Linked DNA regions of Homo sapiens: region 1 is linked to region 2. Evidence: fine-mapped expression QTL. Tissue or cell type: whole blood. Region 2 holds a variant in brackets; the other region holds the start of a gene. All regions are shown on one strand. Distances are from middle to middle.

Region 1 (8,101 bases), 42 kb after region 2:
TCAGTACAAAGCACAGGCACTCACTTCCACACCATAGTCCTCCTTCCTCTACAGCTGCCTCCGTCTTTTCTGGAACCAAAACTCCACACAACTCCCTACACACTACAGTCCTCCCTGCCTGGTGCTCCTCCAAGAACTCCCCGTATGAGCCCACAACAGGCGCTCTCTGGGCACCCCTGAAGGTTGCAGTCCCAGCGCCTTTGATAAAGAAATGTGCTCAGTGTCTGCTCAGCCAAGAGCCCCTCAGACCCTTCCCACCCCTGACTTGCCTCAGCGTCGGGGCCACAGCCCCCAGGCCCTCAGTGCGCAGGTGAGAAGTACACACCTTACACCCAGGAGAGAGGCCTGATGACCGCCACAAGCCCTGAGGGTGCGGGAACCTCTTCAGGCCCCAAACTATGGAGCCAGCCACTAGCTCAACAGGACTGATCCCAGAGTTTGTTTCTCAAAATACATCAAGCGAGTGTTCCACTGAAAACAGAAGGCAAGCAAAGAGAAACAGCCACAAACATCAGGCACGAGTCTCAGATCCAGTCCCTTATAAAAGCTCACTTCCACCACTCAGCTCAACTCAGAGGTCACAGGATTTGCATCAGCAGAAGCTCCAGCGGAAAGAATGTGGATGCTGTGACATTCTGCTGAATGATCCCAAGTTCTTTTCTGAATCTGGAAGGAAAAGGAAAGAAGTGCCAAAAAGTTCACGCAAACAGTGCTGTGAGCTATTTAACAGATGCTTTTATTATCAAGAGCTGCAGAGGTGGGCCGGGACACCACCACGCTTCCACAGTGGGACCCTAGCCCAAACCAGCAGCCTGAGAGGCCGGGACACCATGCCTGAAACTCACTAGCAAGAACACTCTGAAAAAGCAAAAATGACAGCAGATTTACAAATCAACTAGCATATGTGGAAAGTGCATTTAAACTATCAAACCAGAACCCACCATATTAACTCAGGACTTCGGTCCTTTTTAATAATCAGTCATGTTCAAATACTGACTTCCTTTCAGTGTAGATAAGGTTATAAATCAACCTGAAAATGTACTACATATTGGAATTAAACCTCGTACCTGACAATCTGTGCTAAACACTAAACGAAATGTCAACACCCAAACAGGAAGTATGACAATGACTAGGAGAAAATCAGCCCACACCCAAAGATCCCGGGACACCTGAGGGTGTGACTGCTGCACTGCTGAGAGGCTCCAGCTTCAGCAGGTGTTGGAGCCAAGGGCGGCCCAGGCACCCACAACGTATCAGACACTTGATGTTATATTTTCACAGATTCCACATAGTAATCCGTCTTACAGGCAAAGACACTGAAGGCAGGAGCCAGTGGGAACCCACCCAGGACCCAAGAGCCCTGGTCTGGCGCACCACCTTCGCAAAGATGCTGTGACTCAGGAAGGCACGGCGCCAGCTGTGCCTGCACGGCCAGACAAGACATGGCTTGCATGGGGACATTAAAGAAATCACCTTGAGGAGATGGCAGCTTCCCTGCTTGAAGACAGCATAAGAACCTAAAATGTGTCAACAATTCCCTTATACAAAATGTCACTTTTGTAATTGGCTGAATGTACTAAAACTTTAAAAGTCGAGCAAGCTTTAATGACAAATCCAAGACCCAAAATTAGCCAGGTGTGGTGGCGGGCGCCTGTAGTCCCAGCTACTTGGGAGGCTGAGGCAGGAGAATGGTGTGAACCCGGGAGGCAGAGCTTGCAGTGAGCTGAGTTCGCGTTTGCAGTGAGCCGAGTTCGCGCCACTGCACTCCAGCCTGGGCGACAGAGCGAGACTCCATCTCAAAAAAAAAAAAATTCCAAGACCCATCTGCTGGCATCTCCTGGACGGCACAGAGGAGAGACACTGGGATGAAAGTCAAGTGGCATTTTTTTCACATTCAAACAGCACCTCTCATTAACATGTGGAACACAGCAGAGTCTGACCCTCTCAACGCACTCGAGGCGTGGAAGAAAAATGTCCTACGTGTGTACTCTAAGGCAGTGTGTGAAGTCCCCTGGAACTGAACTCAGAACGGAGACCTCAGAGTCTGGACTGTACGCCTGTCAGCACCCATGCCCCTCAGTCCTCCCTCTTCACACAGAGACCACCACTGAATCTGCCAGTAACAAAGGAGCTGGGTGGCAGGGAAGGTATTCTGGCAAAATCCTGAATGGTCAAACGGTAAATTACTTTATTTCAGAAAAAATGAAATGGCTTTGTAAACACTCAGGCTCACAAAAAAGAAAGTCTATTAGTTCTATATGTAGCAAAATCCCGAAATTCTGACACAGAGTAATGCAGCATGATTAGAATATTCTAAACGAAAATGTTAAATGAAAATCTTGATATTAAAAGGCAGTACAGGGTAGTGTTTAAGAGTGTGAACCCTGGAGCCTGGGTTCAAATCCATATTTCATAATTTACTGCTGTGTGGTTTAGGTAAGTTACTTAACCTCTCTGTTCCTTAGCTTCCTCATGAATGAACTAAGGATAATGTCAGTACCTGCCCAGTGGACTGTTGTGAAGATCACACAAAGAAAGTGAATACGACATGCTCGTAACAGTCCTGGAACAATCATTATTAAATATTATCGTCTGCTGGGGTAAGAGCTGTCATTAATAGATGGACACATGAAGAAAACAGGGTAAATTCTATGAGGGAGACTCAGTCACTCACTCACTCATTGCCACATTCTAAAAGACGACACTGTGGCAGGCACTGGGCTGGGCAGGGAGGAAGTGCCACCGACAAAGTTCCTGTCCTCAACAAGGGGAAGGTAACTGGCATTCCGGGGTGCGCACTAGGTGTCAGAGACTGTGGTAGAAAATGATTTCATGGCAGGGCGCGGTGGCTCGCACCTGGAATCCTAGCACTTTGGGAGGCTGAGGCAGGCGGATCCCTTGAGGTTAGGAGTTCGAGACCAGCCTGGCCAACATGGTAAAACCCCATCTCTACTAAAAATAAAAAAATTAGGCGGGCGTGGTGGCCGGCGCCTGTGGTCCCAGCTAGATGGGAGGCTAAGGCAGGAGAATGGCTTGAAGCCGGGAGACGGAGGTGGCAGTGAGTCAAGATCGCACCACTGCACTCCAGCCTGGGCAACAAAGCGAGACTCCATCTCAAAACATAAAACAAGAAAATGATCTCGTTTGCTTCTCTTATCAGCAAAGTGCTACATGTCCGGATGAAGGAGTTGAGGCTGACAGCCAGAAAAGAGGCCATGGGCACGAGTTAGGAAGGGCAGCAGGGACGGCCGTGGCTTCCCAGCATGTGGCCCCTGCACCAGTTCCGGGCTCCTCAACTCTCCGCTGTCCTCACCACACATCCAGCTGGTGGGAAGGCCGCACAGCACCCAGCCAGGCCCACAGCAGGCATTCGAGAAACGTCTATCCAACCAAACCGAATGGGACCCCTTCTCCAGGTGTTCCGGGCAGTCATCCCAAAGCTGCCGGAGCCAGGCTAGGCCAGGGCCTGTCCTAGAGGACGGTTCAGATAGAAACGCCCCTGGGAGGTGACCCTCACCCCAGGAGAGCCTGCAACACCCCGACACCCACTGCCTCGTCGCCGGTCCTCCCATGAAGCGGGGAGGCTGAGGTGCTGTGACGACCTAACAGTCTTGGTCTGGGCTTATAAACTTGGAAAGTCTAAAGACGTATTCTTCTGAGTACCAAAATATAACTGGCGAAAGAAGGAACCTCTTAAAATTACATTACCAAAGATAGGTTTTAGGTAGCAAGTTCTCAACCGTGTGTAGTCTGCTAAGATTTATAAATTAAAAACAAAAACAGAGCCCAGGGGAACGGACAAGGGCTCGCGGGCACCCTCCCCGGGACGACGTGCACACAGGCCTGCGGGACAAGAAGGCCAGGGTCGGAGTGGGACTGCGTCTCCCTGCCCTTCTTCCCGGCGGAACTCGCCCTCCTCACCTACAGGATCGCCCTAAATGCGCACGAAATCCTTCCCTGTTCCCGGTGAGGTGGTGAGAGAGGGCGAGGCCGCGAGCAGGTGCGCCCGTCCCCACTTCCTGCTCAGCGGGGCAGCAGGGGGGCTGGGGATCTCGGGGGGGCCGGGCCGGGGGTCCCGGGATCGCAGTTGCCGGGCGACCGCAGGGGGAAGGGTGCGGGGGCCGCGGGACCCAGGCCCAGGCCCCACGCCCGGCCGGAACTTTCCTCCCAAAGTTTCCCCGGGGCGCCAGGCTGCGGCCTAGGCCGGGCGCGCCTCCCAGTGGGGGTCGAGGCCGGGGCCGGGGCCGGGGCTGGAGGCGGCCTGCGGACCCGGGTCCTGCCCGGCCCGCCCTCCCCTCCCCGCCCCGGCTCCAGCCCCAGCCCGCGGCCCAGGCCCCGCAGCTCGCCGGGGTCCCGGGCCTTCGCGTGGCGGCGGCGGGGGCCACTCACCTGGACGCGGGTCCCTCGGTTGCCGGCCGAGCTCACTGCCGCCCCGCCCCCGCCCCGTAGGCCCGCGACCCACTGACACCGAGGCGGAAGTGCGGCCCGCCGCCTCGCCGACTGACAGCCCGCGCCCGCCACTCGCTGCGCCCGGCGCCGCCGCGTCGGCCGCTGCCTGCCCAATCAGCGCCCGGCCCGAGGCTCGCGCCGGGGGGTGGGACTATGCTAATCCCTTCGCGAAGGGCCTCTACCTGTGCCCCCTCAGAGCCCCGCCCACGCAGCGGAGTGACGGCAAGGACAGCCAGTCACAGCAGGAGAGAGGCGGGGTTATGCCGCCCCTGAGCCAAAAGGGGAGGGAGGCAAGGAGGAAAGGGCGTGGCTGCAGAGAGCAGAGTTGACAAACAGTGAGTCAGGTGGCCCGGGGCGTGGGTGCTCCGCCCTCAGGTGCACTGCGTCCTGGCGGCAGTGCGGGCCTGCGAGGCTACCCAAAGCCCTGGGGGCTTTTTCCTACAAATGCTGGGGACCGTGCGATAGCTGGGGCGTAGCTGCTTCCACTGTCCTACCAAATCCTGAATATCGTCCACCTCCTTTGCATGCCATTCACCGCCAACCAAAATCCAGCGCCAATTTACCCCTCCAGCTGCATCCCCGACCGTTTCACCACCATACTTAAAACCCTTTGGACTCCCACTGACCTACAGTGGCTCCAGGGTTAAGCCCAGAAGTTCTGGAATCAGACCTGGAGCTTGCATTCTTTACCAGCTGTGTGGATTTGGACAAATTAATTAACCTCTCTGAGTCTGTGATCACTCAGTTTCATCTGCAAACCAGGGTTCCCCTGTCAACATCTCATTGAAGTCATGGGTCTGGTTTGAGGTGAGTGGAGTGGCATAAACCAGGCTGGCTACATAGTCACAGCAGTTGGTTTAGGGGTCAGCCTGTGACCCAGTTCTAGCCAAAGAGGCTCAGTCCTGGGACTTTTGCTGTAGGGTCAGAGTTCAGACCGGAGGGGAGGCTGAAGTCAAATGACTCTCCCATCTGCCCACAGACCTCTCCAGAGCTGGGTTAGGTGAGAGAGGGAAGGGGCCAGTCTTCCACATCTCACTACCCGAGAACAGGGCTGCACGAGAATGAAGCCAGCCCAGAGGAAAGCCGGAGCAACCACGGCCGGGTCACGTGGACCCTGCTGCACCTCAGCAGGTCCTTTCCTTGACTTTTCAGTTACGTGAACCACATGCTTGTTTCTGCTTCAGCCCATTTGAGGTAAAGCCAAGAGTCCTGGGCTTCCTGTGGCCTTGAGAGCTCTGGCAGATGACCCGTGACCCCGCAGTGCGTCCTGCAGCAAAGCCAGCCCCCGTTGGGCCTCTGCACCCCCTCCTCAGGCCTTGTCTCCCCACTTCCAGGCTGCCCCTAGCAGGGCCATGGAGGCAGGGACAGGCCTTTGCCCCATCTGTGGCCCCGTGGCAGACGTGGGTACTCTCTATAAATTTCAGGGCATGAGTGAGCCAATGAACGTGGCCTCTGTGGCAGGGGTGGGGCCCAGGCCACATCTCTGGGCCCAGCAGGGCCGTTCTCCCCCACCCCAGGGGCTGGCCCCACTCACTGGTGGGCCACTGTCAGTCGGCGCCACTAGAGACGTGCCGGGACCAGGAAGGAGCTGGCTGAGCCTCTCCTGAAGAGAGAACGGGGAGGAGGGCGGGCAGGCCTCAGAAACAAAGGGGTTGCCATGGTTACCTCTGAAGAAAGCGACTCCAGCCGGTGAAAGGGAAGGGAAGGCGTGCGGCCCCCAAGCCAGGACAAGGACGATGAGGCCAGTTGCCACGGAGATGACTGCGCTCCACAGCTTTCCCTGTGGGCCTTGCCAGGGCCAGCTCAGGGTCCCAGAAACCCATCACTCTCCATGTCCCTCACCCTAAGTCTCTAAGACTCTAACCCCTGTGCCCTTGAGGGGATCCAACCTGCCCACCCACCCCTTGACCACGAGCTCTGCAGTGAGGGCAGCCTCAGAGGCTCAGGCAGAAGGACCCTCTCATCTGCCCAGGGACCACCCCAGGGCCAAGCAGGGAGATCCACCCTGGCCTTGGGGTTGGGGGTGTGATCTCAGATGGCCCCTGGGCTGGAGCAGGGGTTTCACCCCTCTCCACAAATGCAGTAACTGAGCTTCAAGGGTAGTCTGCCGTCAGCCAGCACTGCTGGAGACGTGCCAGGACTGGGAAGGGTACTTCCTCCCCGGGGCCAGTTGCTGGGACTAGGCGAGAATCCTCCCTCAGTTGGTGGGTAGTAAGGAGGGTGCCTTGAGACCAACTTAGGCGTCTTTGTTATGATCTTTACTAGGTCACGAGGCCAATTCAAGAGGCACAGTTCTCCAAGGATGGAAGATGGGGGTGGAGAAGGCAACAAAGATGGATGAGCTGGGGCCATGATGATGAGGATGATGATGTTGATGATGATGATGGTGATGGCGGCCGAGTGCCCTGTGATTTACAGGCCCATCTGGTTTCATGTTTGCAACAGCCAATCAAGTGGGTACCAGGTGCCATCATTCCCACTTTACAGATGAGAAGACTGAGCCCCAGACAGGTTAAGTGACTCCCCCAGCCCTGCAATGAGGAAGGGCCCAGCACAGCTCCAGGCACAACAAGCAGGCACTCCAAGCATAGGGAGGTCTGGTGGACCAGGCCTGGCCCAGGAGCTTGTCGGCAAGGCAGAGCCGCATCCAGGCTCCCGGACCAGGATCCGCACACGAACAACAGGCCCAGGAGTTCCCATGGCTGTGGCTGCTGGACCCCCGCACCAGGTGGGCTGGCGGCTGTGTCCCACACATGCTCTCTAGAGCCTGAGAAATGCTCATCCTGCAGGTGATTTGGGGGGTGTCTGCTCCCACCTTCACTGCTCTCAGACCAAATTTCTGCTTCCTGACAGAATTTGTAGGATCCTCCCTCTGTCCTCTTAGCCAAGGAGGGGAGAAGCTCTCTCCCTCCCTCACCATGGGGGAGGTCACCAGTGGGTGGATTTCATGACCCACATACCTCCCAGGGCTGGCATGCGGGGTCCAGCAGTCCCAGCCACAACTATGTCATCCCGCTTCCTTTCCTCTCACGGTGAAGGAGGCGGAAGAGAGGTTGTTGCTCCCACCTTTTGGATGGGGAAACTGAGGCTTAGAGAGCAGAAGCAGCTTGCCCAGGGCCTGGCAGCACCAGTCCCGCCTACGACCCACCGCCCTTTCCCCCGCTCCACTCTTACCTCCTCCCCCAGGTTTCTGGGTCTGGGTTTATCTCTTTATCTGGGTCTGCACCCACAGCTGCCCCATTAGATCAAACAGGGCTTGGCTTCCAGGAACGCCGGGTGCCTTGGCATTGCTGGCCTGGCTGGCAGCTGCTGGCTGGTGAGCCCCAGCTGAGGCTGTCTCCTCTCCCCAGGCACTCCCCAGGCCTTTAGAGAGGACATTCTCCCACTCTCTTTTATGGAAAGCCATGGAATCTTCTGTGTGGATGCAGCCTGGGCAGTCAGAGAGGGGCCTGGCCCTCACGTGGCCGCAGCTGACCCCTCCCCGCCGCAGCTCTCCAGTCTCCTCTGCGACGTGACAGCCCTGGCTTCTCTGCTGTGGGGAGGAGAGTATTTTTAGTTTTGAACCCACCACGTGAAGCGAGACAAGTTATCAATAGCAGCAGCAAAGGGCTTTTTCTTTCTCTCTCTCTTTTTTTTTTTTCCCATGTCTTTG
Region 2 (8,000 bases):
AACACTTGGGATCCGGAGGAGGCTGAATGTTTCCGTTAAATAAATATTGAACATTTCAGGTTTGGTACATTCCAATTCATTATGTAGAAAATAGGACACCTCTTTTGAACTATCCCTTTTATTTTTAAGTTCAAGAACAACTAGTCTTAAGATAATGAGTATTCCAAAGCTTTAAGGGGAAAAGCCTTGCCAGTACTTTCTGGCTGTTGAATATATTATCTGGTACTCACAACTAAAAACAAAAAATTGAAATTCACTTGATTTTTAACAATATGTCTAGGCTAACTCAAAGAAAGCGAGAAGATTTATTAAGAAGGACCCAGAACTTGGAGCTTCCAGAAAAGAAACGGCCTTGCCTGAGGTTCCCTCAGATACTTCCAGCCATGGGGGCCAGCAATTATGTATGACTCGTGGGCACTGGTGCCCACGGTTTATAGCAGCAGCCTCCGTGCAACCAAAATACAGATATGCCGGCTGGGTGTTGTGGTTCATGCCTATTAGTAATCCCAGCACTTTGGGAGGCCGAGGTGGGAGGACTGCTTAAGCCCAGGAGTTCAAGACCAGCCTGGGCAACATAGCAAGACCCCATCTCTAAAAAAAATAAAAATTAGTCAGGCATGGTGGTACATGCCTATAGTCCTAGCCACTTGGGAGGCTAAGGAGGGAGGATTGCTTGAGCCTGGTAGCTGGAGGTTGCAGTGAGTTATGACTGCACCACTGTACTCCAGCCTGGGCAACAGAGGGAGACCCTGCCTGGAGGGGAAAAAAAAAAAAAATGGAAAGAAATACAGATAAACCCCCTCACTGATACTGGAACCCACAATATATGGTTCATCTGGACAGACAAATTCTGCACATTCATCTCTCCTGGTGGGGCCCAAAGGTTCCCTGGGACCCCAACAGGTGAGCTAAAGGCAGCAGCGGCCTGGCAGCCCTCAGCACCCAGGGCTCAGCTCTGCCCGGGGACGCCCCAGCCCTTACCAGCTTGGCCTTTCTCAGGTGGTCACCTCTCCTCTCCTGCTTCTTGAAGGATTCATACGAAACAGGATCTATGCCCCACAAACATTCCGTCCATTTGCCATAGATCATAAAGAGCTTCTTTTTGCTGTAATTAAATGGGATTTTTAAAGACAAGTCTTAGTCATTACAAACCATTTGTCTAAACATGTGGCACCCTGGAATAAATTCCCCTCAGGTATGTTTTCTTATGCATCTTGGGACATCTCTGGACATAAATGCGAAGGTGAAAATTTGCATTCTGGGACCATTCGTAGCCCCGATACACACCACGGAAAGGAAAATGAAGGGCCGGAAACCTAAAGGATGGACAGCCCACCGGGCTGCAGGAGATGGGAAGGGACAGAAACCCAAAAGAGAGATGGCCCATGGGACTGCAGGAGACGGGAAGGGATGGAAACCCAAAGGATGGTTGGTCCAGGGGGCTGCAGGAGACGGGAAGGGGCAAAAAAGAGTGAGCGTTTTAAAATGTAAAGCTGCATGCGCCCACTGATCATTTTCAACACACTCAATGTGTTGTGTGTGTGTCCTTCAGCCCTTTTCTATCAATCAGTGCAGTCAATGCTGCTTGCTTGATCTTTGGTTCCCCGCCTGCCTTTTTTCATCAATAACAACCCAGAGACCTTTGCAGAGTGGCCACCAGAGCTCTCGATTCTAAAAGGGATGAAGCCAAATAGTGCCAGACTCCATTTTCTTTCTCCTTTCGCCTCTTGCTGGGAAGAGTCAACCGTGACCACAGACTCCCGGGAAGTGCAACTCTGACAGACTCGGGACCCAGGAGGGGACGGTGTCACTGCAGTGCCTGCAGAGCCAGCACACAGACGCGGGGAACTGGGCCAGGCCTCACCTAGTAGACAGCCTGGGGACAACTCTGTCTCCAAGGACAGAGCACCCTTAAATTTAGGATGGAAAACCAGACAACCAAAACACACTTTACATGCACTCACTGAAGGTCAGCGAGTCTGGCCTCGGGGTCCCTGCCCGGTTCTGGAAAAACATGTTTTACATGCACTCACTGAGGGTCAGCGAGTGTTGGCCTCGGCGCCCCCGCCTATTTCTGGAAACAGACAGCCAGCTGCTCCCTGGGCTGAGTTCCAAGGGGGAGAGGTGTCAAGGCACTGATGACTGCTACCCTGTTGTAAGACTGCTGTCCCTTCTAGGTCCACATGTTGATCCTCACATGTTTTATGGGAGAAATGGTCAGTCATAAGCCTGGCCATTTTATTTTATAGGCTGTTCAAACGGGTGCATTTCTGGTCTACCATAGAGGGTGGACAGAGCAGAAACACCAACTGTCTTATTTTTTTGAGACAGCCTCTTGCTTGGCTGCCCCGGCTGGAGCGCATTGGCGTGATCTTGGCTCACTGCAACCTCCATCTCCCAGGCTCAAGAGATTCTTGTGCCTCAGCCTCCTGAGTAGCTGGGATTACAGATGTGCGCCATCACACCTGGCTAATTTTCGTATTTTTAGTAGAGACGGGGTTTTACCATGTTGGCCAGGCTGGTCTCGAACTCCTGACCTCAGGTGATCTGCCCACCTCAGAAGTGATGGGATTACAGGCATGAGCCACTGCACCTGGCCCTGACTGTTTTAAATTGGGGACTAGTTTCTAATGGGAAATGTCTACATTTTTGGAACTAGAAGGAACTTCATGACATTCTATGGCTCAAATTCCTTACGAAAAAAACAAATGTGAGACCCAGATTACAAAGTAATTAACCCAAATGGGGAGAAAAAAACTGAAAAATTTGTTGGAACAGTACTGACCATTTCTCTGCTCACAAAAACTTGCGAAAGTCCCTGATTTAAAGACTGGAGTGAACTGGTCACGTGACACTGACGCCCCTCAAGCTAACACATTTGAGTCTTGCCTGACAACGTGCATGGGGTGCTGGTAGAAGGAAAACGCAAGGCCACACTTCCCACCCACCTCAGCTCTGCTGCGAAACAGTCCCCTCTCATCTCCCAGTGGAAATAGCTGACTTCTCAAGACAATTTTATCAAAAGAAGATGGCCCCAGTAACAAGCCACCTAGAAACTACATTCAAAAATACCCTTTATTTCCTTTTATGCTCAATAACAAAATGTCTTTCCAAAACAAAAAAGAGTCATACTTCTGGACCATGAACAGATGGCACTGGTGTACCCGCGTCTCATGCACGTAGGCACACGCAGGCCCAGGAGCACCTGAGCCCTTCTAACGTGGACACACAGGCTGTAGTGGTGCCCCATGAACACTTGGCAAGGACCTACTTTTTGTCTTGAATGTGTCCTTCCACCTTGTGAAGTTCTTTTCCAAATAATCCACACGGTTTAAAGTGAAGCACACACTTATGTCCAGTTCTGTGAGAAAAACAAACACAGGTTTCTGCTGCAAGACAGCAAACAGCCGGAAAGGGTAACTCTGTAACAGGAGAAGCGCGGTGGAGGCCCCTGGGGCAGGCGGGGGGTGACTGCAAATGGGTGTGGTGGGCCTTTGGGGCGATGGAAGTGTTTGAAATGGGCTGTGGGGACGGCTCCATGATTCGGTCAATTTACTAAAAATCACTTAAGTGTCCATTCAGAATGGGCGAGTCTTATGATGCATCGATTATACCTCACTAAAGTGGTGAAAAGGCAAAGCCCACCAGTCATGAGCTTCCAGGAATAGGGCATTCAAGCCTAGACAGTGGCCAACGGCCGTGGACGGCCACTGCGCTGCACCTGGCAATGACACAGCTCTTCAGCATAGCTCAAAGCCTTAAAGTAACAACCGTGACGAAAAACGAGGTCTTGAACGAGGAGCATTCATGGCCAACACCGGTCAGAGTCAAGTCTAGGCAGCTGCTATGCCTGGGCTGGCGGGGACACGGCAGCAGCTCGTGAGGCTGAGCTAAAACCCACCAGGAGCACGGATGCTCACGCTCCCCGGCTCGCCCATCCCCACCCGGAGCCTCGCGCTCTCACCCAACGGTGGGGTGCTGTCACCTGTGGTTTAAAATCTCCACTGTCCCATACTGCTCTATCCACAGCTTCCCGATGATGACGTTGTGGACGCAGCAGGTGGGGTTGGTCCAGGTGTAGGCTTCATTATGTCTGTGAAGACACCAGAAAACAAGCAGTGAGAGTCCAGAAAAGCCAAGACACGACGTGACCCAAGACGCAACGACCAGGCGGGGCTGGGTCACAGCAAC[C/T]GGCACCCGCGGGAGAGCAGCACGCTGCTTTGAAGCCCCTGCGACGGAGGCTGTGTATTTAGCATGCGTTTGAAATGTACTTCTTCTTTCCTTTGTAGCATCTACAAAGCTTTCTACTTAAATGTCAAGACAAGTTAATAAGCAATCAAAGAAGACTGAACAAAGACAAATGGCTTTCCTGTGAAGTCGTCAAAAGAAAGGCCACCTCACGAAACACACACGGCAGTAATGCAGGGTCCTGGGCATGCGGCCCTGGCTTTCTGGGGAGCTGGCACATGGCTGTGGAGGGGTGCAGGGTTTTCAACCGCACTCCACATACTTGTTTCCTTTACTCCTCATCCTCCCAAATGGCCCTGCCCAAGAAGAAAACACCCCACCAATGTGAGGCAGCAGATCAGCAGCCCTATGTTCTAAGGTGCTACGTGGGGGAGCCACAGTGAAGGCAGAAATCTGCTCAGAGCAGGGTATTTTGCCACACGTCTGGAATTCTCTCAATTTCCTGGGGGTGGAACCCAAACTGGTTCATCAGCAAGGTTATCAGCAAGGTGTGCAACTTTATCAGCAAGGTGTGCAACTTCTCATTTCTGCATGCCTCTTAATTAAGCAAGGCCACTGCACAACAGGCACTCGGCCATACCAGCCCCAGGACACACTCTCAGGGGCTTCTCCAGGTCCTTGTGGAACCTTCTAGCCACCATCCAGGCAGGGCCAATGTGAAGCAAAACCCAAATCAAATGCTTCATCAGGCAAGGTGTCGTTTATTACTTATTTCTGTATGTATTTGTTAGGACCTGCTGCCTACAACAAGACTGCAGGCAGTGGCTTGGCAAGACTCACGTCTCAGAACTGGTGGCCCAGGAGGACGCCAGCATCCGGTCTGTGTCTGTCGGGTCTTAGCGGCCGGCATTTGTTGGAGACTTGTGTTTTGCTCTGAGGTGTCTTTGGTTGACACTGGATTGGGGAGCATTTAGGCTGAGAGTGAAGAGGGGTGGCAAGCAGCCTCTCAGAGGGTCCCCTCCCACGCTGTTTCAAATTCCAACCCTAAGTCACCCCTGCCACATGAGCACAGGGTGGGGGAGTGTGCAAAGGGCCACTTCCCTGGCTTCCTTCTCAGCTCTCTCCCCCTGTGGGAGGCAGTGCCCTGCAGCAAGCAGCCCAGAAGGGGAGCCAGGACACAGGCGCCATGGGCAACCCAACCCTCATTGCCACCGCAACCTCACGGTCCCCGGCCCTCAGACACCTGCCAGCCTGGTGTGGAAGCTGCTAAGTTTGGGACAGTTATGCAGCAAAAGACAAGAAATACAATGAATGATGCCGGAAAGCGGGGTGAGTTCCAACTGCAGACGTGAGGATGCACCCCAGCAACATGGGACCCTGGTCATACAATGAATGATGTGACCGAAAGGGGGGCGAATTCCAACTGCAGACGTGAGGACGCACCCCAGCAACACGGGACCCTGGTCAGGAAGCTCATCTGAAGACGTTTCTGCTGTGGGGAGGTCCCCACCTCAGGAGAAAAATGACAGGGTTTCCTCCTGAAGGAAGCTTTCCCTCCACATCACCAGCACCCATTTCAGTTTCTGCAGGAAGCGGATCTCAGCAGGACGCACCGACACTCACTTGAGCAGCTCCAGGGTGATGGTGCCTCGGGGCTCCGCCTCCACGCTTTTGCCCCAGAACTTGAGCTTGGGGTAGATGGAGCCATGGAACAGGAAGTCATGGTTGAGACCTTCCGAGTGGAACGCACTGATGGGGGGGTGGTGACTGACCTGTTCCGATATAAATCTGAATCCTAAATCTTCCCTAGGTCAAAGAATAAAAAAGAGAGACACATTAATGGCAGCAAAATAAAAGAAAGGGCAGCTCAGACATCATGTGGAGCCCCTCACAGGACGCTGGGAAGCAGGGGCCCTCCATGCCACAACATGTGGCGGAAACACCCAACACCACCTCTCCGACATTGCACTTGGCCTAACGTTGGCAACAGACACACACACAAACATGACATCGCACTTGGCCTAACGTTGGCAACAGACACACACACACAAACATGACATTGCACTTGGCCTAACGTTGGCAACAAACACACACACAAACATGACATCGCACTCGGCCTAACGGCAACAGACACACACACAAACACGATATCGCACTCGGCCTAACGTTGGCAACACACACACAAACATGACATCGCACTCGGCCTAACGTTGGCAACACACACACAAACATGACATCGCACTTGGCCTAATGTTGGCAACAGACACACACACACAAACATGACATTGCACTTGGCCTAACGTTGGCAACACACACACAAACATGACATCGCACTTGGCCTAACATTGGCAACAGACACACACACAAACATGACATCGCACTCGGCCTAACGTTGGCAACAGACACACACACAAACATGACATCGCACTCGGCCTAACGTTGGCAACACACACATAAACATGACATCGCACTTGGCCTAATGTTGGCAACAGACACACACACAAACATGACATCACACTTGGCCTAACGTTGGCAACACACACACAAACATGACATCGCACTTGGCCTAATGTTGGCAACAGACATACACACAAACACGACATCGCACTTGGCCTAATGTTGGCAACAGACACACACACAAACACGACATCGCACTTGGCCTAACGCTGGCAACAGACACACACACAAACATGACATCGCACTCGGCCTAACGTTGGCAACAGACACACACACAAACATGACATCGCACTTGGCCTAACGCTGGCAACAGACACACACACACATGGCTTCCAGAGCACATCTGACCCACCCAGAGAGCGCAATGGTGCAGGAGAGGCCTCCACCCTGATGCCCCGCTTGCTCTCCACCTGAGCCACAGCAGTGTCTGGCTAGAGGTACCCAGAGACGCAGGTGGAGAAGCAATCCTTACACACCTCTGACTCCAAACCCTCAACCCCGAGGGACTCCCATTGCCCAGGAACTCAGGACCCTAAACCCTTTCTGAAGGGGGTGCCCCTTCCTTGTCTTTCTACAAGGCCCCTGAAATTTCCGAGATGGAATGGCTTATACCCCAAAATACTCCTGTCCAGGAACAGGATTTTTAGTGTACTCTCTTTTTCAATCAAAATGTCAGCTTTTAATTGTTCCGGAACTGTGAATACACCTACAGTTGTAGTCATTAAAAATTAGAAAAGCTAAACCACATAATTACCAACTTAACTGGAATCAGAATTTCCAATCATTACAGAAGAAAGAAAGTTGAAAAATTAGATTTTAAAAGGTTGACTACCAAGGTATGTAATTTACAAAATGAATACTTGTCTGAGAAAAGAATGTGTATTTTTAGCTATAACAAGGGATCTGTAGGGATCCAGGGTATCAGGAAAGGACTTGGTCCACGTCCATGGCCCCTAACCTGACAGACTGCCAGGGTCTCACAGACACACAGCACATGGCAGACACTGGCAAGGACGATCTGGAAGTGAACTCATGACAGACGACGTGTCTCGGCGTTGCGAAGGTGCATAGCTTGCTTCTGGCTGTGCAGCAGGAGCTCCGGCCCCGGGTGCAGCCCCTGGGGAAGGGTGCTGGCGGCACGCCCCGCTCTACCCAGCCCAGGCGGCTTGCATTCCTTTCACCCACAAGGCTTCTTCTCTATCATCTAGAACTTCTTTCCTCTTCTGATTTATCTTTTTCTTTTTCTTTTTTTGAGATGGAATCTCAAAATCTCTGTCGCCCAGGCTGGAGTGCAGTGGCGTGATCTCGGCTCACTGCAACCTCCGCCTCCAGGTTCAAGTGATTCTCCAGCCTCA

What was found. PIP is the estimated chance that this variant, and not a neighbour inherited with it, causes the effect.
Region 1: OSBPL2 starts here. The variant in region 2 is fine-mapped to the expression of OSBPL2 in whole blood (INTERVAL, PIP 0.94).

Annotation. Positions count from the first base shown.
Region 1 is chr20:62,234,886-62,242,986 of GRCh38, reverse strand. OSBPL2 (oxysterol binding protein like 2) reads right to left here and starts at 4,466. Exons shown (of 14, transcript NM_144498.4): 1 at 4,390-4,466. It overlaps LOC105369209 (a long non-coding RNA gene), which reads right to left. Exons shown (of 4, transcript NR_160555.1): 3 at 7,624-7,981; 4 at 6,686-7,515. RefSeq lists an enhancer at 2,717-3,641 and a silencer at 4,339-4,738.
Region 2 is chr20:62,277,151-62,285,150 of GRCh38, reverse strand. OSBPL2 (oxysterol binding protein like 2) reads right to left here. Exons shown (of 14, transcript NM_144498.4): 7 at 5,812-5,994; 8 at 3,986-4,093; 9 at 3,272-3,361; 10 at 982-1,105. Among named protein-coding and RNA genes, the nearest start is that of ADRM1, 22 kb to the left of the region's middle. RefSeq lists an enhancer at 5,718-6,218. The variant C/T (reference allele first, on the strand shown) is at 4,192.